Linked DNA regions of Homo sapiens: all the other regions are linked to region 1. The links come from fine-mapping of genetic effects on gene expression. A gene starts in region 1. Each other region holds a variant in brackets. All regions are shown on one strand. Distances are from middle to middle. Region 1 holds the start of HABP4 (hyaluronan binding protein 4). Region 2 overlaps CDC14B (cell division cycle 14B). Region 3 has its middle 8.0 kb from the start of ZNF367. Region 4 has its middle 37 kb from the start of ZNF510. Region 5 overlaps HABP4 (hyaluronan binding protein 4).

Evidence for each region. PIP is the estimated chance that this variant, and not a neighbour inherited with it, causes the effect.
Region 2: its variant is the best candidate, but not a certain one, in a credible set for the expression of HABP4 in left ventricle (GTEx, PIP 0.57).
Region 3: its variant is the best candidate, but not a certain one, in a credible set for the expression of HABP4 in whole blood (INTERVAL, PIP 0.85).
Region 4: its variant is the best candidate, but not a certain one, in a credible set for the expression of HABP4 in whole blood (INTERVAL, PIP 0.56).
Region 5: its variant is the best candidate, but not a certain one, in a credible set for the expression of HABP4 in whole blood (TOPMed, PIP 0.85).

Annotation. Positions count from the first base shown.
Region 1 is chr9:96,447,581-96,452,687 of GRCh38, forward strand. It overlaps HABP4 (hyaluronan binding protein 4), which reads left to right and starts at 2,589. Exons shown (of 8, transcript NM_014282.4): 1 at 2,589-3,048. The coding sequence starts at 2,700. RefSeq lists an enhancer at 2,007-2,086 and silencers at 2,367-2,906, 2,917-2,976, 3,057-3,106.
Region 2 is chr9:96,544,304-96,549,410 of GRCh38, forward strand. The region is part of intron 5 of CDC14B (cell division cycle 14B); the gene reads right to left. Among named protein-coding and RNA genes, the nearest start is that of CDC14B, 73 kb to the right of the region's middle. The variant C/T (reference allele first, on the strand shown) is at 2,584.
Region 3 is chr9:96,423,834-96,428,940 of GRCh38, forward strand. No RefSeq gene overlaps it. Among named protein-coding and RNA genes, the nearest start is that of ZNF367, 8.0 kb to the left of the region's middle. RefSeq lists an enhancer at 1-173. The variant A/G (reference allele first, on the strand shown) is at 2,133.
Region 4 is chr9:96,738,336-96,743,442 of GRCh38, forward strand. No RefSeq gene overlaps it. Among named protein-coding and RNA genes, the nearest start is that of ZNF510, 37 kb to the right of the region's middle. The variant C/CT (reference allele first, on the strand shown) is at 2,456.
Region 5 is chr9:96,478,303-96,483,409 of GRCh38, forward strand. All of the region lies in intron 5 of HABP4 (hyaluronan binding protein 4), which reads left to right. Among named protein-coding and RNA genes, the nearest start is that of HABP4, 31 kb to the left of the region's middle. The variant G/A (reference allele first, on the strand shown) is at 3,170.

The sequences.
Region 1 (5,107 bases):
GGGAAGACGACAGGCCCTTCTCTCACATGATCATGATTCCTTGGTGTTGTGGTTTGGTGATGAGCAGTTTAAAGATACCAAAGATAACTTTAGCTTGAAGCAGTGCTTCTCAAAGTGTGGTCTCTGTTGCATGTAGTGATTCTGGTTCATTGAGATAAATTTACTATTTTTACTCTGGTTCATTAAGATAAATTTACTATTTTTACAAAAAATTTACTATTTTTACTAAATTTTACACAAAATTTACTATTTTTACAATTTTAAAGTGTACAACTCAGTGACATTTACTAAATTTACAATTTTGTGCAACCATCTCCACTATCTCGTTCCAGAACATTTCATCACCCCACAGGAAACTCCCATGCCCATTAAGCAGTTACTTTCCAACACTCCCAACCCCCACACCTGGTGACCACCAATCTGCTTTCTGTCTCTATAGATTCTGGACATTTCATATAAATGGAATCATACAACGTGTGGCCCTTTTTGTCCGTCTTTCACTTAGCACAATGTTTTCAAGTTTCATCCCTGTTGTAACAAGTATCAATACTTCCTTTTTGACCAAATAATATTTTTTGTACCACATTTTATTTATCCATTCATCGGGTGACATGTATATTATTTGTTTCTGTCTTTTGGCTATTGTGAATAGTGCTGCTATGAATACTCATGTACAAGTTTTGGTTTGAACACTTGCTTTTAATTCTTTTGGGTAGAAAGCGTAGGCATTAATCTTTGCTCACTCAAAAGGAGATGACCAAATATCTTAAATTCTTCAATCATTCAACAAATATTTACTGAAAACCTACTCTATAGCTGCTTAGAACGCCAAGCACTGGGAATACATACTGCAGTGAATAAGACAGGCATCATCCCTGTCCTCCTTGGGAATAACACAAAATTCAATAAGTGAGTAACACACAGACTTTACAGCATTTAGGATTAGGAATTCCTTTGCTATTAAGGAAAGTAAAAGCTGGTCACAGAGCACCTGGCAAGATGCTCTAACTGGATGCTTTCGGATGAAACAAGCAAACACAACTAAGCGCAATCACATCTGTCACCTTACATCATAAGCCTCAAGTAGGGAGGTTCCCAAGTGGGTCCAGTCGGCAGCTCAACCTCATCAAGGATCTAGCCTTTCTCTATCCTGCTCTGCCATCCTCATGGCCACGCTAAGGAACAGCCACCCGAGGCATCATGTCTTCTCATGGAACAAAGACCAGGGAACAGAAGGGGGGGAGATCCCTTCTCAATCCCTTGTTAGGTGCAAGAAAAACTTTCCCAGAATACTTCTCAGATCTGTTCTGCCCGATTTGCCCCACAGCCTATTCCTAAGCCAATTACTGGCAAGGAATTGGAATCAGGTGCAATGAATAATGTATGATTAATCAAGTTTGAGGCTGGAAGGGGCCCTCTTCCCCTGGGGAATATGATGCCTGAACAAAATACAGGCTCTGGAAAAATGTAAGAGGGAAAGAACGGCTGTAGGATAGGCAGCCAAGCGTGTCTCCACCGCTGCCTATGCAAAGATTTCCTGGAGGAAGTCCAGTCCGGCGTTCTCTAAGCTCCAGGCCTCAACTGAATATCTCAAAAGAAAACAAATATCCAAACCTCAACGTGTCCCAGACTGAATTAATGATTCCCGTTAAAGTAGTGTCTTCCAGTGGTAACTAATACTATCATTCAGATGCTGGAGCCAGGAAAATAAGAGTCACCGTATCTTCTTCTCCCTCATCACCACCTCTAGCGCATCACCAAGTCTTTGAATCCATCTACTCTCTTCGCCTCCACCGCCACCATCCTAATCCCAGTCACTATCAACTCTTCCCTGGAGCTTTGCAACAATCATGTTTGGCTTCCCAGCATCCATTTGTATTTCCCTCCAAACTATTAGTTCACAGTGCAGGTAGGGTGGCCTTTTCAAACCCAAATCTGCTCATGCTCAAAACTTGCTTCCCACTGCTCTTAGAATAGAGACCACTTTGAGCTTGAATAGGCTGTGCACATCCCACCTCAAGACTGCTGCACTTGCTGTTCCTCCTCCAACCCCTTGTCACCCCTCTCCCTCGGCTTAACTGTCATTTCCCAATTAGGTCAGATCCCTTTGCTGCAGCCCGTAGAGAGCTCTGCGCCTGTCCTTCAGGGCACTTTTTCTCCATCTACAGACTCAGATCTGTGACAACACGGAGCTAGTATTTCCTACAACATAATGCCTGGCACACGGTAAGTGCGCAATATGTAGCTGTTGCACGGCTAAATGTATACATAAGCTTCAAAGCAGAGTGGCCCATAGCAAATACGGTCGCAGTCCCGGGAGAAAGCACACACAGCCGAGACCCCACCGCTTCGTCGGCGCCGCCTGGACCAGCCAGTAGCTCCGCCCCTGGGCCCCGCCCCTCCCTGCTGAGCGAACGGGGCGGGGCCCAGAGGTCGCGTGACGTGACAGCAGCCGGTCGGTGATTGGGTCTCCAGGCGCGCCGTGTCGGAAAGGGGGCGCACCCGCGCGCGCTGACTGGCTGTCTGGCGCAGCGGGGCGGACGGCGGCGGCGCCGCGGGGGCGGGCGCCGGTAGGGGCCGGACAGGGTAGGGCCCGGAGGGCGGTGGCGGCGGAGCGGGCGGCATGGGTCCTGGCCGCCGGCTTCGCTGAGACGCGCTCGCGTGGGCTGCCCTCCCGGGCCCGCAGTGGTCGCGGCGGCATGAAGGGCGCTCTGGGGAGTCCCGTGGCTGCCGCTGGCGCCGCGATGCAGGAGAGTTTCGGCTGCGTGGTGGCCAACCGCTTCCATCAGCTGCTGGACGACGAGTCGGACCCGTTCGACATCCTGCGCGAGGCCGAGCGCCGGCGCCAGCAGCAGCTGCAGCGCAAGAGGCGCGACGAGGCGGCGGCGGCGGCCGGGGCCGGTCCCCGCGGCGGCAGGAGCCCAGCCGGGGCCTCGGGCCACAGAGCCGGCGCGGGCGGCCGGAGGGAGTCGCAGAAGGAGCGCAAGAGCCTCCCGGCGCCCGTCGCTCAGCGGCCCGATAGCCCCGGGGGCGGCCTGCAGGCGCCGGGTACGCGGGGACAGCGGGGTTAGCGGACCACGGCTCGGCCCGCTGTGAGACTGGGGTCCCGGGGGCCGGTTTCAGGAGGAGGGGCCCGGGAACAGTAGGGAGAGTTGAGGGTCCTGGTGGCCGCCGAAGGTAGGAGGAGAGGGGCAGGGGTCACACCCCTTCCAGCTCTCGCCAGCCTCGTGCGGGGCTCCGGGGGAAACGCTGGCTTGGGGTGGGATAGGGCCCTCGAACCCTGGCACTGAGGCTCTACGGCAAGTTGGACGAAGTTGAGGGAGGTTGTCTGGGTGGCGTGTGGGGGCGAACGGCTGAGGTCGCTACCCCGGGGCTCCCACATCCAGACCTGGCGGGGACCTTCATCTTCCAGCCCAGCCTCTGCAAGATTGAGGTCGGAGCCACCCGAGAGCGCGGTGGGGAGGAGGAGGGCGCCTGGTCCCGGGGCTGGGGGCCTCTGTGATGCCGGAGGCCTGGGCGACCGCGGGGCGGCCTGTGACGTCGGGGCCCGGGCGGGGGTCCCCGGCGCGGTCCGGCCTGGCGCCTTCGCCCCTTCTCCGTCCGGTAGCTTCCAGGAGGCAGCCGGCATCGTATTTCAGTACTTCGTGTGGTGTTGATGGGATGTGCAACTTATAAATAGCTCAAGGCTGCTTTAAGAAAAGCGTTTTTAACCTTTCCAGCAAGAATATTCGGAGTTCCCCACTCCCTATTTAGCAAGAAAAACCGGTGCGCAGCGTGGTGTCCTGCTGCCTGTGGACGGGGAGGGTGCTTCAGAGTTCATTCTCTCACCGAACTGCGTCAGTGGCAGAGCCAGCAACACTCCACCTGTGTTTCCTGTTTTCTTGAAATGAGGCAGCGGTCCCAAGGTTTGCAGAGTGTTAGGATTAAGATGTGTAGGTTGACCATTCCTGCCGACGTTTGCCAGTGTGTTCAACTTGGCTTTATTGGTTTGTTCCTTGCTTGATAAAAATTGTGCATCGCAGCCCTGAGGAAACGTCTCAGGTTTAAGTATTAGGGCTTTGATGTGCAGCTGGGTAATGTTTACCTTTATTTGTGAAAAGCTAAATCCAGAGTCATCACTTGAGAATCAAGTCACTACAATAAAGATGTTGAAAATGATTTTTAAAAAAATGTTATTTACTATCTCACGACACTTTGGTAGGCCAGTAAATTTCTGAGCCTATCTAAACAGTGAGACTGGAGATACATTGTGCATTTTATATCCTGTTTTTTATCTTTTTCTCTTAAACTTATTTACATCAATATAATAAAGGAATTGAGGAAGGCTAAGCTTTTCTTCACCCTTTATTTTTTAACAAATGAAAATGCCGGGTGTGGTGGCTCACGCCTGTAATCCCAGCAGTTTGGGAGTCCGAGGCGGGCGGATCACGAGGTTAGGAGATCGAGACCATCCTGGCTAACACGGTGAAATCCCGTCTCTATTACAAATACAAAAAATTAGTCGGGCGTGGTGGCGGGCACCTGTAGGTCCAGCTACTCGGGAGGCTGAGGCAGGAGAATGGCGTGAACCCAGGAGGCGGAGCTTGCAGTGAGCCGAGATCGAGCCACTGTACTCCAGTCTGGGAGAAAGAGCGAGACTCCGTCACAAAAAAAAAAAAAAAAAAATTCTGTGCTTCAGAAAAACGTGAGACGAGTTAGTGCTGTTAATACATTGATTTTTAGCCTTTTTAAAATTGTCATGCATTTTTGTGTTAAGAATTTTAAGCAATTCCAAAATGTATGAGGTTAAGTGAAAATCCTCTTATTTTTCCTACTAACACTTTGCATTTATATACATAAATGCACAGAGCTATTTCTTTTCTTTCTAAACTTAAATGATATAAACTGGGTTGCAACCTGTTTCCTGCACTTGATGTTGTCATGTAGTACACTCGTAACTTTTTTTTTCTGTCAGTTGTTAGGTCTAAGTGATCTGGCTTTTGAAATCAACTAAAGGTATTTAGTTGATTTTGTAGTTAGAACGGAAATTTTATCATTCAAGTTCTTTTTCAAGTATGTGTTATTTCAGGAGCAAACAGCTCATTAATTTCCATTTATGTAGTTACTG
Region 2 (5,107 bases), 97 kb after region 1:
TTCCACAAATGTTAGAATAAAAACTAAACCACATTTTAAACTTTTAATTCTTGCTCAAACCTTAAGGGCCAAAACTACAGCAATGAGGGCAAGAAAAGGCATCCTTTTTAGCTAAAATCGTCTTCAATGTTACTGACTGAGCTGCTTAGAATTACTGAGCTATGCGAACCTTCATGAGGACAGAATGCAGGGTCTTGTTTTCTTTTTTTGAGACACGGTCTCACTATGTTGCCCAGGCTGGAGTGCAGTGGTGCAATCATGGCTCACTGCAGCCTTGACCTCCTGGGCTAAAGCGATCCTCCCACCTCAGCCTCTGGAGTAGCTGGGACCAAAGGTGCACACCACCAGGCCTGGCTAAGTTTTCGTATTTTTTGGTAGAGTTGGGGTTTCACCATGTTGCCCAGGCTGGTCTCGAACTCCTGAGCTCAAGCACTCTGCCTGCCTCAGCCTCCCAAAGTGCTGGGATTACAGGTGTGAGCCACTGCGTTCAGCCAACACAAGGTCTTAGAACACACCATTTTTGTTCTGTAAGGTTCTGAAGTGAAAAACTTCTCTTCCACATCCTAGAAAAAGTCTTTAACCTAAAAGGCCACGATTTTACCAACACTTTATTGGCAATATTCAGAAAGAAAAAAACAAAAGGACTTCCAGCAGTGGTCCCCAGGCCAGCAGCACCAGGACCACCCCACCTGTTAGAAATGCAAATTCTCAGGGCTACCCCACATCTACTGAATCAAAGTTCTCGGGATAGGGCCAGGTAATTTGTGTCTTAACAGGTCCTCTAGTTGTCTGTGATTGTGTTCAAGTTTATGAATCACCAACCTACAAATCAACACAAATCCTGGTTTTGTAGAAATAGGGTGTTCATGGAATAAAGAACCCATTTAGGTAGAGAAACTAAGGCAGGAAAATGAAGTACTTTAGCCTAAATCAAATCAAAATTATCAATGGAAATGGGGTAAACCCTCAAGTTGGATCCCAATGATTTTAACCATGTCTTCTCTGTGAAGGAGTATGATTATTTTCTTTTTTTTTTTTTTTTTTGACAGTCTCCCCCTGGAGTGAGTGCAGTGGCGCGATCTTGGCTCACTGTAAGCTCCACCTCCTGGGTTCACAACATTCTCCTGCCTCAGCCTCCCAAATAACTGGGACTACAGGCGCCTGCCACCACGCCCAGCTAATTTTTTTGTATTTTCAGTAGAGATGGAGTTTCACTGTGTTAGCCAGGATGGTCTCAATCTCCTGACCTCGTGATCCACCTACCTTGGCCTTCCAAAGTGCTGGGATTATAGGCGTGAGCCACTGCGCCTGGCTTGATTATCTTCTTAACCTACTGATAATCTTTTCCAATCAAGTTAAAGACATGTTGATTCAGTCTCTGTGACATTTTGGCAAATTTCTTCAATGCTTTTTTTTTTTTTTTGAGAACCTACTGTGGGGCACAGCCCCGCTCCAATCTGTGATGATTTCACACGCTTTCATCTGGGCCCTGCTGAAGTCCTGCCTCATACATCATAGAATCTGAATATACGACAAGAATCTTTGCTCACTCAAGTGTATTTCATTAGCACCTCCAATTTTAGACACACCCACATCACATCTTCCTCCCACCTTGCATTCAGCCTTCTTCCAATAGGCAGAACAGCAACTCTGAGGCTCAGTTTATAAGCCTTGGGCAGTGGGGAGGGATCCTTGTCACCAAGATCATTTAACAAATTTGGAAAACACGTAAGAATCAATAAATGGGCACTGCTTAGAAACTGCACAACAATGTCAAATACTAGTTTTAAAGAATGGCAGCTTTCGTAACAGCTCGTATTCACCACGGCCAAAAACTACGAATGACCCAAATATCCATCAAAAGGACCACAGGCAAATAAATTGTGGTATACTCATAGACTGGAATGCTACAAAAGGAATAAAAAAGGATGAACTACTGATACCTTCCACAACACAGGTAAATCTCATAGACATTACATATGTGAAATCCAGTTGACAGCTCCCCAAAATGCATACCAGTAATATCAAGTTCAAAGGCAAGCAAAACTGATAGTGGTAGAAGTCAGAGCAATGATTAGCTGGGGGTGATGACTGACTGGAAAGGGGTGGGAGGGAAATCTAGGAGACAGAGAATTTTTTTTTTTTTTTGCGGGGAGTGGGGTGGGGACGGAGTTTCGCTCTTGTCGCCCAGGCTGGAGTGCAATGACACGATCTCAGCTCACTGCAATCTCCGCCTCTCAGGTTGAAGTGATTCTCGTGCCTCAGCCTCCCAAGTAGCTGGGATTACAGGTGTGCACCACCATGCCCTGCTAATTTTTGTATTTTTAGTAGAGACAGGGTTTTACCACGTTGGCCAGGCTCATCTTGAACTCCTGACCTCAGGTGATCCACTTGCCTCAGCCTCCCAAAGTGGCAGGATTACAGGCGTGAGCCACCGCGCCCGGCCACGACAGTGATTTTTAAACATGTAGGTAAATGGCCGGGCTCGGTGGCTCATGCCTGTAATCCCAGCACTTTGGGAACCTGAGGCGGGAGGATCATGAGGTCAGGAGATTGAGACCATCCTGGCTAACACAGTGAAAC[C/T]CCGTCTCTACTAAAAATACAAAAAATTAGCTGGGCGTGGTGGCAGGCGCCTGTAGTCCCAGCTACTTGGGAGGCTGAGGCAGGAGAATGGCGTGAACCCAGGAGGCGGAGCTTGCCGTGAGCCAAGATCGTGCCACTGCACTCCAGCCTGGGCGACAGAGCAAGACTCCGACTCAAAAAAAAGTAGCTAAATGACAGTCAACTTAAAAGGGGGAAGGTTGGAATATTTAACAAATATTAGTTAAAGGCCAGGTACTATATCAAGTGTTTGTTTTTTTTTTAAGAGACAGGGTCTTGGCCAGGCACAGTGGCTCATGCCTGTAATTCCAGCACTCTGGGAAGCCGAGGCTGGTGGATCACCTGAGGTCGGGAGTTCAAGACCAGCCTGGCCAACATGGCAAAACCCCATCTCTACTAAAAATACAAAAAATTAGCCAGGTGTGGTGGCGGGCACCTGTAATCCCAGCTACTCAGGAGGCTGAGGCAGGAGAATCGCTTGAACCCAGGAGGTGGAGGCTGCAGTGAGCCGAGATCACACCAATGCACTCCAGCCTGGGTGACAGAGCGAGAGTCTGTCTTAAAAAAAAAAAAAAAGATACGGTCTTGTTCTGTTGTGCAGGCTGAGTGCAGTGGCATAATGAAAGCTCACTGAAGCCTCCTAGGCTTGAGGGATCCTCCTGCCTTAGTCTCCCAAGTAGCTAGGACTACAGACACATGCCACCCTGCCCAGCTAATTTTTTTTTCCCCAAAGAGAAATGGTCTTGCTATGCTGCAAGGCTGATCTTCCAAATCCTGGCCTCAAGCTATCCTCCTGCCTCAGCCTTCCGAAGTGCTGGAATTATAGGCATGAGCCACCATGCCCAGCCTATACCAAGTGTTTTATATGCAGGATGTCACTTCATCCTCACAACTCCTTGAGAGAGAATGTATTATTGTTTCTGTTTCTGTTTTTTTTTTGAGATGGAGCCTCGCTCTGTTGCCCAGGCTGGAGTGCAGTGGCACCATCTCAGCTCAATGCAAGCTCTGCCTCCCGGGTTCACAGCATTCTCCTGCCTCAGCCTCCTGAGTAGCTGGGACTATAGGCGCCCGCCACCACGCCTGGCTAATTTTTTGTATTTTTAGTAGAGACGGGGTTTCACCGTGTTAGCCAGGATGGTCTCGATCTCCTGACCTTGTGATCTGCCCACCTCAGCCTCCCAAAGTGCTAGGATTACAGGCGTGAGCCACAGCGCCCAGCCTATTGTTTCTGTTTAAAGACTAGGAGACCAAGGCTCAAATCTGTAAAGGACCACAGAGATGTCAGTAGCAGAGCTGACAGCAAGACTCCCATCTGTCTGATGTCAAGTCAAGCTATTAACAAATATACAATACTACCTCTCAAGAAAACAGGAAGCAGAGGCAAGCCCCACACACACAAAAACAACTAAGAAGCAAAGAGTATTATAACAGATAATACCAGAGAACAGAAATACACACTGTTCATAACAATGATCCTATGATATTTAAAAAAAATTAAACTATATTTTATACTATTTAATTATGCAGACCAGACACAGAGAAATATTTAATATAACTCAATAAGAAATCATATACACACATACACACACACATACATACACACACACTTTAAAACTCAGTGGTTAAAGAAGGCTGGGCACAGTGGCTCACCCCTGTAATCCCAGCACTTTGGGAGGCCAAGGTAGGCGGATCACTTCAGGCCAGGGGGTTGAGACCAGCCTGGGCAACTTAGTGAAACCCCATCTCTACTAAAAATACAAAAATTAGCCGGGCATGGTGGCATCTGCTCTAGAGGCTGAGACATGAGAATTCCCTGAACCTGGGAGGCAGAGGTTGCAGTGAGCCAAGATTGCGCCACTGAACTCCAGCCTGGGTGACAGAGCAAGAATCTGTCTTTAAAAAAAAAAAAAAGAGAGAGAGAGAATTCTATCTAAGTTGAATTAAATCTAATTAAATAAAACATTGCTACAGAACATAAAAGAACTTATTTGCTATAAATGAATGCCATTCTTGCACAACGTCGTGTTAGCAATACTTTGTTGGTCATATTTATTCTATGTACTTAAAGTGGCAAGATACAAAGAATATAATGTCATTTCTATCAAAATATTATCAGGCTTTATTAATTCTGATTGGACTACTTTCTAATTGATAAGTTCTATAGAACACTATGTGAAGAAGCACTAAATTTAAAAACTAAGTCTATCACAGGTTGACACTTTTGTAAGATAAATATGAAATGCAATAGTACTATACTATTACATATCCAGTAATGCAATAATCTTATTTTTGTGAATAAAATAAATTACTAGAAAAATGAAAGGGGAAAAAAAACAAAATACAAGCTCAAATTTCTTCTACTATTTGATTCTACAGACATAAAATTGCTCTATTCGATAACTATAAATGTTTCTAAAATCTTATTCTCAACTTCTGTATTTATCTCAACACAGGCTGGTAACAAAATGTCACAGATCGGCACCAGTTCACAGGCCACACTTTATGA
Region 3 (5,107 bases), 24 kb before region 1:
ACCCCCGGGCCGTGGACTGTGTGGCCTATTGGGAACCAGCCACACAGCAGGAGCTGAGCAGCGATAAAGAAGTATTACTGCCTGAGCTCTGCATCCTGTCAGACCAGCGGTGGCTTTCGATTCTCATAGGAGCACAAACCCTGTTGTGAACTGCGCATGTGAGGGATCTGGGATCTAGGTTGTGTGCTTCTTTTGAGAATCTAATGCCTGGTAATTTGAGGCGGGACAGTTTCACTCCAAAACCATTCCCTTTCCTCTCTCCATCTGTGGAAAGGTTGTCTTCCACAAAACGAGTCCCTGGTGCCAAAAAGGTTGGAGACCGCTGCTCCAGGGCACAGTTGCAAGTTTGCACAGGCCCTGCTATGTGACTGAGTCCCACAAAAGACATTTTGTAACAAGAGGACTAAAATATCACCCAAACTTTAAACTTGGGGCCCACGTAAACCTCAGATAAGGTAGTCTTCCCCTCATGGGAGCACGGTAAAATCTTCTTGGCTAACAGATAACTTGACTAACTATAAACAAATCATTTTTAGCTGCTTAACCACATTAGGGATAACCTACCAAACCTCCTTCAACCTGAGATCACCACATTCCTAGTAATATAGGGACTTTGGGCCTCCAGAATTGTCAGTGAGACAGCTTGGGAATGACAGTCCGATTCAGAAGGCTGTCCCAAGGACTTGCCTTGAAACTATCTTTCCATAGCAAGTATATATATGTACATATATATATGTGTGTGTGTATATATGTACATATATATATAATTTTTTAATTTAAGAGATGAGGACTATGTTACCCAGGCTTGAGTGCAGTGCCTATTCACAGGCACATCATAGCTCCCTGCAGCTTCAAACTCCTGGCCTCAAGCAATCCTCCTGCCTCAGCCTCCTAAGTAGCTGGGACTCCATGGAGCCTAACTACAAGCATGATGTTTTTACTTAAAGTATAAGTTATGTACCAATACAAAATAGTAAATAGTAAATACTTTTGCAAAACTTACACAAGATTGAGAAAGTTTCTGTTACTCCTACAAATGAATTCTACTATTATTGCTCACCTCTGGAATTGCTTTTGGTGACACAGGTGGTGATTTGGGGGACTGACCCATCTTCTAAGCATTCCTTGACACCCCCACTGTCTTCAAGGATCTGGAGGTTGGACCATTTGACCCTTCTGTAATCTTGAAAGTGACTGAGTGGGCCAGGTGACTCTTGCCTGTAATCCCAGCACTTTGGGACACCGAGGCAGGCTGATCACATGAGTTTAGGAGTTCAAGACCATCCTAGCCAACATGGTGAAACCCTATCTTTACTAAAAATACAAAAATTAGCCAGGCGTGGTGGCGCACACCTGTAGTTTCAGCTACACGGGAGGCTGAAGTAGAAGAATCGCTTGAACCCAGGAGGCGGAGGTTGCAATGAGCTGAGATTGCACCACTGCACTCCAGCCTGGGCAACAGAGGGAGACTCTGTCTCAAAAAAAAAAAAAAAAGAAAGAAAGAAAGGAAAAAGAAAATGACTAACTGACTGAGTGACTGTGAGGTACTAATATTGGTTCTCTTATGCTCCACAAAAACATCAGTTTCATTATCTTAGACCCACAATGATCAATTATCAGCTGGATATGGAATCAACTTTAAAATAATATGTGGCTCTACACTGTAAATTATACTAATTTGACTTGTTAGAATAAAATCCAAAGTAGATTTAAATGAAGCAGTTTAATTAGGACAGCAGATTCATAATACTTTCAAGAAGCACTTAAGTCTTATAAGAGGTCATTGAACTGACTCTTGGGACAGCTTCCCGTTTTATCACACTTAGGATCTGCGGGTATCTCGAGTGCCCTAGTTGTAAGCTTGTGCCAAAGGTAGTCAGTACATTTTACATCCAGGAAGACTTTCCACTGTGGTATTTCATCATGTTTATTGCCATTTAATTAAGGTAAGTAAGGACATAGACATTTTTAGTTTAAATTCTATTCCTCCTCACTTCTGTGTGTCAGAGGTCAACTTTGGAGAGTGGGTTGTCAGTACAATTATTGTTGTTTTTCTGATATTCTGTCTTTTACTTTTTACTCTGAATTATTTGAGGCTTACAGAAAAGTTGCAAAAATAGTAAATTTTTCAC[A/G]CATACCTCACTCAACTTCCCCTAATGCTGGCATCTTATATTACCACAACCACGTATCAAAACCAGGAAATTAACATGTGTACCATATTATTTATTAAACTACACCCCTTATTCTATTTTAATCTTTTTCTTTTTTTCCACTAATGTCTTTTTTTCTGTTCCAAGATCCTGTCTGGATCTTACATAGCATTTAGGGATTATTTGTCCTTAGTTCCCTGCAGTGAGTAACAGTTCTTCAGTGGCTCAGTGGCTCCTTGTTTTTCCTTTTTTTTTTGAGTCAAAGTCTCACACTATTGCCCTGGCTGGAGTGCAATGGTGCCATCTCGGCTCACTGCAACCTCTGTGTCCCGGGTTCAAGCGATTCTCCCACCTCAGCCTCCCAAGTAGCTGGGATTACAGGCACCCATCACCAAGCCCGGCTAATTTTTTGTATTTTTAGTAGAGATGGGGTTTCACTATATTGGCCAGGCTGGTCTCGAACTCCTGACCTCGTGACCCGCCCGCCTCAGCCTCCCAAAGTGCTGGGATTACAGGCGTGAGCCACCACACCCAGCCCCTTGTTTTTCATAATTCCGAATTGGTCAGAATTACGAAATTGGCTGGGCGCCAATGGAGAATCCTTTCTCCATTCTACGGAGAAATAATATTTCATTGTATAGCTATACTATATTTTGCTTATCTATTCATCACTTGATGGATATTTAAGTGGCTCCCACTTTTTGCCTATTATGAACAGTGGTGCTGTGAACATTCGTGTGTCTGTTTTTATGTCGATATATGTTTTTATTTTTATTTTTGGTTATACCTAGGTGTGGAATTGCTGGGTCATAGAGCAGCCGTGGGTTTAACATTTTGGGGATCCGACTTAACTTTTCCAAAGCAGCTGCACTCACTCTGTTACCCAGGCTGGAGTGCAGTGGTGTAATCATGGCTCACTGCAGCCTCAACCTCCCGGGCATAAGCAATCCTCCCACCTTCGCCTCCCAAATAGCTGGGACTACAAGTGCACAACACTATGCCCAGCTAAGTTTTGCATCTTTTTTGATACAGACATGGTCTCGCCTTGTTGCTCAGGCTGGCCTCAAACTCCTCAGCTCAAGCAATCCACCCACCTCAGCCTACCAAACTGCTGGGATTATAGGCGTGATCCACCGTGCCAAGCTGTCTCTTAATTTTTTTTAAGAATTCTATATATATGAGAACATTGCCCTTTTGTCTGTAGTATATGTTGTGAATATTTTCTCCCAAGCTGTCATCAGTTGTCTTTTGACTTCATTCATGAAATTTTTATCACATGACTTTATTTAAAAATTTATCTTTATCCTTGTGATCTGAAATGCCACCTTTTTCATATACTAAGTTTCCATATGTATTTGGGTCTAACTTTACATTCTGTTCTACCAGTCTGTTTGCCTGGGTTTTTGTTTGTTTGTTTGATTTCTGTTTTTTGTTTTTTCGAGACAGAGTCTTGCTCTGTCGCCCAGGCTGGAGTGCACTGGCGCAATCTCGGCTCACTGCAAGCTCCACCTCCCAGGTTCAAGCGATTCTCCTGCCTCAGCCTCCCAGGTAGCTTGGGACCAGAAGTGTTTGGGATTTCAGATTTTTTTGGATTATGGAATTTTTGCATATACATAATGAGATATCTTGGGGATGAGGCTTAAATCTAAACATGAAGTTAATTTACATTTCATGTGCACCTTATACACGTAGCCTGAAGGTAATTGTATACAACGTTTTAAATAAAAATAAAGGTGTGTGTATGTTGAACCATCAGAGGCGAAGATGTCACTATCTCAGCCACCAATGTGGACATCCCCATGCTTCCTGACTCTGCATTTATATGATACCAATAACCAATCATTTTCTTAAACTCACACATACGTACTTACCAGTAAAAAATATGACATTTCATTAATGCAGTGAAAAAATAATGTGTTCAGGGCACCCAAGATAGCATCACCAGATACCTGCATCAGTGGCTAAACAACAGCAGCTTCTGGTCTCTACCTATGATACTACCTTTTGATTGAAAGGCTGTACACTGTATCTTCTTTTTTTCAGTGAAAAAAAAAAACATCAGTAGCAGTTAAAGGATCAGGAAGTGGGTCCCATAGGGGTGAGGAGGCATCTGCTGGATGGCTTTTGAAAATGTTTCATTCAGCATCATCTGCCTCATTAACAACAGTTTCTGTCTTTTTTTTTTTTTTTTGAAATGGAATTTCACTCTTGTTGCCCTGGCTGGAGTGCAATGGCGCGATCTTGGCTCACTGCAACCTCCACCTCCCAGGTTCAAGCAATTCTCCTGCCTCAGCCTCCTGAGTAGCTAGGATTACAGGCATGTGCCACCACGCCTGTCTAATTTTGTATTTTTAGTAGAGACGGGGTCTCACCATGTTGGTCAGACTGGTCTCGAACTCCCAGCCTCAGGTGATCCACCCGCCTCGGCTTCCCAAAGTGCTGGGATTGCAGGCATGAGCCATCACCCCGGCCAGTTTCTGTCTTAGACGTCTCTCTTGATTTTTATGAATTGACATGATTTCTTGTTTGGTTGTGAATGCACACTGCCCTAGTTTTCAATAAGCCCATCATACATTTTCACCAGGTCCTCTATAGGTGCTTTTTCTATAGTGTTAACATCATCATCTTCACTGTCACTGTTATCACGATCACCTTGGTTCAGAACCAACTCAGATATTTCACCCTCAGTTAGTGAAGGAACAAGGCTCATTAAAAACGTCTTGAATATCCACTTCTTCCAGCTCTGACACAGACTACATATATATATGTATATATATGTATATATGTATATATGTATATATGTACATATGTATATATGTATATATGTACATATGTATATGTGTATATATGTATATATATGTATATGTGTATATATGTATATGTATGTATATTGTGTATATATGTGTATATATGTATATATATGTATATATATGTATATATGTATATATATGCATATA
Region 4 (5,107 bases), 290 kb after region 1:
AATGAAGAAATCCTATAAATATGATGTAGTAGGGAAGATTTCTACCAGAAGTAAAAACATGAAAAGTATCAGAAAACTCACTGGGATTAAATTTATAAACATAATGAGTGTGGAAAAGCTTTCAGCCACACATTAAACCTTGCACTGTATCAGAGAACTCACACATGTGAATGGGCCTGCCGGTGTCATGGATCTTGGAGTACTTTTAGGCAGAAATCACACTTCCAAGAACATCAGAGAACTCATGGGAGGAATTCTATAAAGGTGATGAATGTAGGACAACTTTCAGCCACAAGTCAGAGCTAAGAAAAGACTGGAGAACTCAGACAGGGGATGAAAACCTATTTACCAAATGAACGTGGAAGTTTCTCACTAAACATGTAACTTTTTGTTTTGAGACAGCGTCTTGCTCTTCTTCCAGGCTGCAGTGCAGTGATGCAATCATGGCTCACTGTAGCCTCAACCTTTGAGGCTCAAGTGATCCTCCTGCCTCAGTCTCCTGAGCAGCTGGGGTTTCAGGTGCATACCACCATGCCTGGGTAATTTTTAAAAAATGTTTTTCTTAGCGTCTCACTATGTTGCCCAGGCTGGTCTCAAACTCCTGGGATCAAGGGATCCTCCTACCTCAGCCTCACTAAGTGTTGGGATTACAGGTGTGAGCCACTATGCCCAGCCAACATAAGAGAACTTTCACTGGAGGGAAAGCCTTGAAATGTATTGCATGTGGATAGTCTTGTAGCCACTAAGTATAAGCTTAGTCCGTATTGGAGTCAGATAATTCACCCAGGAAAGAAACGCTATGAAGGTAATGAATATAGAAAATATCCTATGTGAACTAAACCCTTATAAACTTACACTATGGAGGAATCCTGAGAAAGAAATGAAAAGATGGATGCTTTCTGTCCTTGATTGAACGTCATTGAGCAGAGAATTTAAACGATGGAGAAAACCTAGGATGTAATAAATGTATGGTAATCTCAGCTCAAACCCACCTTTCTCAGTGCAACAGAAAATGTATACAGGCTGGGTGCAGTGGCTCGTGCCTGTAATCCCAGTGCTTTGGGAGGCTGAGGCGGGTGGTTTACCTGAGGTCAGGAGTTCAAGACCAGCCTGGCCAACATGGTGAAATCCCGTCTCTATTAAAAATACAAAAATTAGCCAGGTTTGGTGGTGGGTGCCTGTAATCCCAGCTACTCAAGAGGCTGAGGCAGGAAGAATTGCTTGAGCCCAGGAGACAGAGGTTGCAGTGAGCTGAGATTGTGCCACTGCACTCCAGCCTGGGTGACACAGCAAGACTCCATCTCAAAGAAAATGTATGCAGCAGTAGAGACCTCATAGTATATCAACCAGACCAAATAAATCATATGAAGGTAATGGATGTGGGAAATCCTTCTTCCAGAATGCAGCCACACAATGTGATATATATATATATAAAGTAAATAAAAGAGACCCCTATGGCACCTACTTGCGTGTTTGCATATTCTTGTGTGTTCACCAAGAACTATTTCCTTTTGTCCCTAGGCCAACAACCACTCTTCCATCTATATGGGGTAGTGGAATGTGGATTTCAGTGGTAAAACAAGTCCTATGAGAGATATCTTCATTCTATATGTTTTTTTGCTCTCCTTGTTCCTATACTAGAGATGAAAAATACCACATGGAAGGAGCCAAGGTTCAAGAATCACTGTGTGGAACAGTTTCCTCATCTTACTTCTCTGGCAGCCTTTTATGAGGAATAAACAAACTTGTTCTCTGCTGAGCTGTTATAGGTTTGGGTCTACTTGTTACTGACATATCCTAGACATCCCTCAGCTGATACAAGCTAAGAATATGACTTCCTTGAAAAGCGTGAAGTTGATATGTGTCTTAGTCCATTTGCATTGCTATAAAGGAATACCTGAGGCCGGGTAATTTATAAAGATAAAAGGTTGATTTGACTCATGGTTCTGCAGGCTGTACAAGAAGCATGGCACCAGCATCTTCTTCTGGTGAGGGACTCAGGTTGCTTCCACCCATGACAGAAGGGGAAGAGGGGTAGCAGGCTTCACTTGGAAAGACGAGGAAAGAGAGAGAGAAGGGAGGTGCCGGGATCTTTTTGACAATCAGATCTTGTGCAGCCTAATAGAGTGAGAACTCACTCATCAAGTTGATCACGAGGGATCCACCCCCATGACCCAGACACCTCCCACTAGACCCCACCTCCAACATTGGGGATCAAATTTCAACATGAGATTTGAAGGAGGCAGACGCCCAAACGATATCAAAAGCCTCATGGGAGAAACCCCTGACAACATCCTGACTGATCATTAGCTATTGCCCACAACTCTTCATTACTCATCTGGTAAATGACAGGATTTGTCTGATGTTGCCTTGTGATTACATTTAGGTTATCTACCTTTTGTAGACATACAGCATAAGTAACAGAAGTGTTGAGATTTCTTTTCTTTTTTCTTTT[C/CT]TTTTTTTTTTTTTTTGAGACAGTCTCCCTCTGTCACCCAGGCTGGAGTGCAGTGGCCGATCTCAGCTCACTACAACCTCTGCCTCCCAGGTTCAAGCAATTTTCCTGCCTCAGCCTCCTGAGTAGCTGGGATTACAGGCGCTTGAGCTCAGGAGTTCGAGGATGCAGTGAGCTATGATGGCGGCACTGCAGTCTAGTCTGGGTGACAAAGCAAGACCTTGTATCTAACAAAATTAGAAGAAAAATCTTGTGAGGAGATATGTTCAGGCTATGCATGTATCCTCTCAATCCTCAAGTCACTACTCATTACTTTTAGTGTTTACTCCTGATCATTGCCCAAGTCACTTATTACCACAGTCGCAAAACCTGTTATTTTTAGTTCCATTATTCCTCACGTGTTTATCATGGTATAGAAAATAGTTTTCTTTTTTCCAGCATTTATTATTTATTTTTATTTATGTCTGTATAGATTCAGCTTTCTGTATTCAGTGGGTTATAATGCTTAGCTAGTATGGTTGTTTGTTTTTTATTCTCAAATCATCTGAGACGAAGCCTGTGGGGCATTTAAATTGTTCCTGTGTCCTTTTGTCATGTTTCTGGTATCTTTTTGCTTTTACCAAACCATTCTTGTACTTGTTTTGATAATTTTGATTTTTCCTTACAATGTTTAGAATTCTAAGCCCCTCTTAAGAAATCCTTTAAGATTGTGATTAGAATTTCATTTAATTTTGTCTCAATCAGGTGCCCATAGGTATAACCAATTCAATGCACTGGCCTAGATTCCTTCTGTGGAAACCCAGAGACACAGTCTAGCCATATGGGGCTCAGGCCTTTCCTAGTTTCCCTCTGTGCTGACCAATGTCCAGAGAATACTCCCCACCCAGTACCACATCACCCACTAGGGAATGTTTTCCGGGCCCTAAATGTTTTTAATGCTCCTTTTTTTCCCCCCTCTCTGCTTTATAGATCTTTTTTACCTGTGTCTAAACTTTTGTTCCAACAAATGGTAGGATCACCTGGAGACCCTGGAGGAATTAGATTTCCTGCTCACCTCCTTCTTTAGGCTCCTTATGTCACTACAGGCACATAGGCAGCCTGTTTCCGCAGGGTTTCCACACTGCTGCGTGTGGTGACTCTGCAGATGAGGAGCATTTTCACGCTTCAGCACTCACCCAGCACACCTTTTTCTTTCCTGTCTGTTGTTTGAAAGAATGATACTGTATCTTAGCTGCCTGTCTAGTTGACTAAGTGAATAAGTGTCTAACTATTATCAACCATATGTGACCTGACAGAGTGACAGACAACCCAGCTGTGTAACCACATAGATGGAGGGAACTTAGGGAGTGTTGCCAGGATAAATAGCTGCTTGCTTCTTTATCAGTTTAGGCTCCTCTGCATTGTGGAGCCCCTTACTCTGCCCTCTTGAGCACAGTTTTTAGTGTCAGGTAACTAGGCAATAAACATTCAGAACCACCTGCAGCCCACTGCTAACTTGAGTCCCATAAATGAGCTACAGGGAATTCATTAGCTGCCTGAGATATTCAAATTTATGGCTGTAGGTGGGTGTGCGCATACTTCTGGCATGAAGATTCATGGTTTTTGTCACATTTTCAAAATGATTGCTACTCTAATGATGCAAAATTGTCAAGAACTTTTGCTCAGGAGAGACCCCTAGGAAGCTCATGAATAACTTTCTGTTATATGTGCAGGTTTCTGGGAAGATAGTGCATAGCTGTTTTCAAAATTTCTAAATATTTAATAACTTAGTTACCTATTACCTATAATTTTTTTATATGGTTTGGCTGTGTCCGCACCCACATTTCATCTTGAATTGTAGTTCCCATAATCCCCATGTGTGGTGAGAGGTATCCAGTGGGAGATGATTGAATCATGGGGGCAGTTTCGCCCATGCTATTCTCATAATAATAAGTTCTCACAAGATCTGGTGGTTTTATTATTTTTAAAAATGTTTATTTATTTTTTTGAGACAGTGTCTTGCTCTGTCACCCAGGCTAGAGTGCAGTGGCATGATCTCAGCTCACTGCAGCCTCTGCCTCCTGGGTTCAAGCGATTCTCCCGCCTCAGCCTCCTGAGTAGCTGGGACTACAGGGTTGTGCCACCATGCCCGGCTCATTTTTGTATTTTTAGTAGAGACAGAGTTCCACCATGTTGGCCATGCTGGTCTCAAACTCCTGACCTGAAGTGATTTGCCTGCCTCGGCCTCCCAAAGTGCTGGGATTACAGGTGTGAGTCACCGCGCCTGGCCAAGATCTGATGGTCTTATAGGGGCTTCCCTCTTCACTTGGCTCTCATTCTTCTCTTTCCTGCCACCATGTAATTAGAAGGACGTGTTTGATTCCCCTTCCACCATGATTGTAAGTTTCCTGAGACCTCCCTTGCAAAACTGTGAGTCAATTAAACTTCTTTCCTTTATAAATTACCCAGTCTCAGCAGTGTGAGAATGGACTACTACAATTTTCATCTGCTGCTCAGAAGTGACCTCCAAGAAACTTACATTTATTATGTTCAACCCCCATGTTCCATTTCACAGCCACTCCGATGTATGATATTGCCATCTCAGGGGTCAGAGTGCTATGCAACAAGTTAAGAGTGTCTGGCTGACTCTTGAGCAGCACCTAGAGACCTATTCTT
Region 5 (5,107 bases), 31 kb after region 1:
TTGTATTTTTAGTAGAGACGGGGTTTCACCATGTTGGCCAGGCTGGTCTCGAACTCCTGACCTTGTGATTCGCCCTCCTCGGCCTCCCAAAGTGCTGGGATTACAGGCGTGAGCCACCGTGCCCGTCCTGAACATTTTAATATACAAGTGTTTATATGGATATACACTTTCATTTCTCCTGGGTAAATACCTAGGAGTGGAATGGTTGGACCAAATGGTATGCGTATATTTCACTTTGTAAGAAGCTGCTGAACTCTTTTCCAACATCCTTGCTAGAACTTGCTATGGTCAGTTTTTATAACTTTCAGTCATTTTAATAGGTACATATCTCATTATGGGTTTTTGTTGTCATCGTTTTTTTTTTTTTCTTTTTTTAGAGACAAGATCTTGCTCTGTCACCCAGGCTAGAGTACAGTGGTGTGATCATAGCTTACTGTAACTTCGAACTCCTGGTCTCAAATGATCCTCCCACCTCAGCCTCCTGATGTCCAGCTTATTTTTTACTTTTTGTAGAGATGGGGTCTCGTTTTGGTACCCAGGCTGGTCTCCAACTCTTGGCCTCAAGTGCTGCCTCGGCCTCCTGGAGTGCTGAAATTACAGATGTGGGCCACCGTGTCTAGCTTCATTGTGGTTTTAATTTGCATTTCCCTAATGACTAATAATGTTGAGCATTTTTTGTGTGGTATTTCCCATCTGTATTCTTTAGTAAAGCTGCTTTGATAAAGAACCACTGCCACCAGGGACTTGATTGTTTCCAGGGCATTTGGGTGGACAGAGATGGGAAATACACACATACACATTATAAGATAAAATATGAGTTCATTCAATATTTCCAATTCGAAGTTAAGATATGGGATTTTTACCTAGACTGCTTGTTTCTCCTTTTCTTACATACTGAAAATTCTAGTTCTGAGTAACATTGTGCTTTTAATCATTTGTTGCACATAAAACAGTCACAGCATTACCAACATTACCTTCAGTAACACAGTTACTGAAAAGTTATGTCGAGGAGGGAGATGAGTAATCAAATTTGTATTTCAAAATCATTTGAAATAGTTCTCTTGATGGTTATATCACCAGTTTCATAAACATTTAGGTTACTTTGATTCATTTTACTTTCAAATTTTAGAGATTGAATTTTAATTTAAATCTGTTTTATAATTATGTAAAATATTTACATGTTTCCAAAGTTCAGTCTGAAAAACATGATTTTTTTTTTTTCTTTTTGAGATGGAGTTTCACTCTTGCCGAGCCTGGAGTGCAGTGATGCAATCTCAGTTCACTGCAACCTCCGCCTCCCGGGTTCAAAGCGATTCTCCTGCCTCAGCCTCCCGAGTAGCTGGGATTACAGGTGCCTGCCACCATGCCCAGCTAATTTTTGTATTTTTAGGAGAGACGGGATTTCACCATGTTGGCCAGGCCTGTGTCGATCTCCTGACCTCAGGTGATCAACTGGCCTTGGCCTCCCAAAGTGCTGGGTTTACAGACAGGAGCCACCGTGCCCAGCCAAAACATGGTATTTTCAAATAGCTTTTATCCCTATTGTTTTCCTGGCTTATATTCCAATTTAAAAAAAATGCTGGCCGGGTGCGGTGGCTCATGCCTGTAATCCCAGCACTGTGGGAGGCCAAAGTGGGTGGATTGCTTGAGCCTAGGAGTTTGAGACCAGCCTAGGCAACAAGTGAGACCCTCCCCCACCCAGTCTCTACAAAAAATACAAAAATTAGCTGGGTATGGTGGTGCATGCCTGTAGTCCCAGCTACTCTGGAGGCTGAAGTGAGAGGATCCCTTGAGCCCAGGAGGTGGAGGTTGCAGTGAGCAGAGATCATACCACCGCACTCCAGCCTGGGTGACAGAGTGAGACCCTGTCTCAAAACAAAACAAAACAAAAAAACTATCTATCTCTATCGGTGCTATGCATATATATTTGTGTGGCTCTCCAAGGTACTGTACACCCCTCCTTGCTTTTTTCTCATTCACTCTGGAAGGTGCTCCATAGCAGTATATACAGATAGTCCTCATTCCTTTTTTAGCTGCTATACTATAGTTTTTTCACCAAGTTCTTTTCTAGATAGGTTTGGGTTATTTCCATTAATTTGCTGTTCCAATGTCTTAGTATCTTTTAATATTTTTGCCAATATATATTTGAGATCTATATTTTGATATTGGTATTTTTCCAGCATTTTATTGTGAAAATTTCAAAACACAGCAAAGTTTAAAGAATTTTATAGCGAACATCTATACTTACCACTACCTAAATGCTACCATTTATATCTTATATATTCATTTTACATAAGTATTCATTAGTCCATGTTTTTTGACACATTTCATAATAAATTGTAGACATCTGTACACTTCCCCCTAAATAGTTCAACATGCATATCACTAAATAGAATTAATATTTGTTTACAATTTTTTCTTCTGATATAAAATGTATATACTATGAAATGTATAAATCTTAAGTGTACATTCACTGTTTTGACAAATGCATGTACTTGTGGAATCCAAACTCCTGTCGAATACAGAACATTACCAATCACGCCAGAAAGTTCTTTCATATTCCTTCATGTTATCTTTGCTTTGATGTTTTTTCTACCATCAGCTTGGTATTGTAGAGTCACTGCAAATTTGTCTATTTTGGATGCTCTGTGGTTAGGTTTCTCTACTGATTTTGCTTATATTTTTCATAACATTGATCTGTGTATTTCTATAATAGAACCTTAAATTACATCAGCTCTTCAGTGAAGATACAGATTTGATTCCCCACTCCCCACCTACTGTTTTGTTTTGTTTTGTTTTGGAGAAAGAGTCTTGTTCTGTCGCCCAGGCTGGAGTGCAGTGGTGCCATCTTGGCTCACTGCAACCTCCGCCTCCCGGGTTCAAGCAATTCTCCTGCTTCAGCCTCCCGAGTAGCTGGGATTACAGGGATTACAGGCGTGTGCCACCACACCCAGCTAATTTTTGTATTTTTAGTAGAGACGGGGTTTCACCATGTTGGTCAGGCTGGTCTTGAACACCTGACCTCATGATCCACCTGCCTCGGCCTCCCAAAGTGCTGGGATTATAGGTGTGAGCCACCGCGCCCGGCCTGTTTTTTCCCCTTAAACACTTTTGAGATATAATTCTCGTACTATAGCACTCAAATCTCTAAGTATATAGGCCAGGTGTG[G/A]TGGTTCAGATCTGTAATCCCAACACTTTGGGAGGCAGAGGCAGGAGGATAGCTTGAGGCCAGGAGTTCAAGACCAGCATGGGCTACATGGAGAGACCCCGTCTCTACAAAATGGTTGTAAAAATTAGCTGGGCCTGATGGCTCGTACCTGTAGTCCCAGCTACTCTCAGGAAGCTGAGGTGGGAGGATCCTTGGGCTCAGGAGGTTGAAGGTATGGTGAGCCATCATCATGCCACTGTACTCCAGCCTGGCCAACAGAGTGAAACCCAGCCTGTATCAAACAAATAAATGAGTAAACGACTGAATGCATGGATGGATGGTTTGGGGTATGTTACATTATTAATTTTTTAAAATTGCAGTAAAAATAACATAAAAATTGCCATTTTTACCATTTTAATATATATAATTTAATGGCATCAGTAACATTCATATTGTGTGTAACCATCACCACCATCCATCTCTAGAACTTTTTTTTTTTTTTTGAGATGGAATCTCACTCTGTTGTCCAGGCTGGAGTGCAGTGGTGCGATCTCGGCTCACTGCAACCTCCACCTCCCGGGTTCAAGCGATTCTCCTGCCTCAGCCTCCTGAGTAGCTGGGACTACAGGCACATTCCACTACACCCGGCTAATTTTTCTGGTATTTTTTAGTAGAGACGGGGTTTCACCGTATTGGCCAGGCTGGTCTCGAACTCCTGACCTCATGATCCGCCTGCCTCAGCCTCCCAAAGTGCTAGGATTACAGGCTTGAGCCACTGTGCCTGGCCTTGTAGAACTTTTTCATCACAAACAGAAACTCTATATCCATTTAACACTAACTCCCCATTTCTCCTCAGCATGTAGTAATCTCTATTTTACTCGTGTTTATGAATTTGCCTATTCTAGGTGCCTCATCTAAGTGGAATCGTTCAATGTTCCTTTTGCACCTGGCTTATTTTAACTATTAGCATCAAGTTTTCAGCTTCATTCATGTTGTAGCATGTGCCAGTCTTCATTTCTGTTTTTCTTTTTTTGTGTGTATTTTTGTGATGATTTTCAAATCTACGATTTTAATCCTTTTAAAGTGTACAATTCAGTGGCATTTAGTACATTCAGAGTGTTATGCAACCATCACCATGATCTGGCTCCAGAAGGTTGTTATCATCCCAAAAGGAAACCCCATGCCCATTCAGCAGTCACTCCCTATCCTCCCTCCCTGCAGCCCTGGCCACCACTGACCTGCCTCCTGTCTGTGTGAATCTGGCTCCTCTGAATATTTCATGTAAATGGAATCATACACAGAAGTCTTTTCTGCCTGGTTTATTTCACTTGCATCATTTTTTCAAGGTTTGTTCATGTCGTAATGTGTATTAATACTTTGTTTCTTTTTATTGCCAGATAATATTCCAAAAAATGTGCCATATTTGGTTTATCCACTCATTAGTTAATAGACATTTAGGTTGTGTCCACTTTTTGGCTATTATGAATAGCACTGCAGTGAACACTTGGGTTTAAGTTTTCATGTGGATGTGTGTTTTCATTTCTCTTGGGTATAAACCCAGGAGTGAAATTTCCGGGTCAGAGGCTAACTCAGCTTAGATTTTTGAGGAACCGCCAGACTGCTTTCCAAAGAGGCTACACCATTTCACATTCCCACTGGCAGTGTATGTGGGTTCCAGTTTCTCCACATCCTCCCCAACGCTTGTCAAATGTCGTTTTGGTTCTAACCATCCCACTGGGTGTGGACTGGTGCAGCTCTGTGGTTTTGACTTGTCTTTCTCTAATAGCTAATGATGTGCAACATCTTACTGCCTATTTGTATATCTTCTCTGGAAAAATGTTCACTCAGATCCTTGCCTTTTTTGGGGGGAGGGTGGTCATTTGTCTCAACTAAAGAGGACTTGTATCTAGAATTCATAAAGCATTCTTTTTTTTTTTTTTAAAGAGACAGTGTCTCATT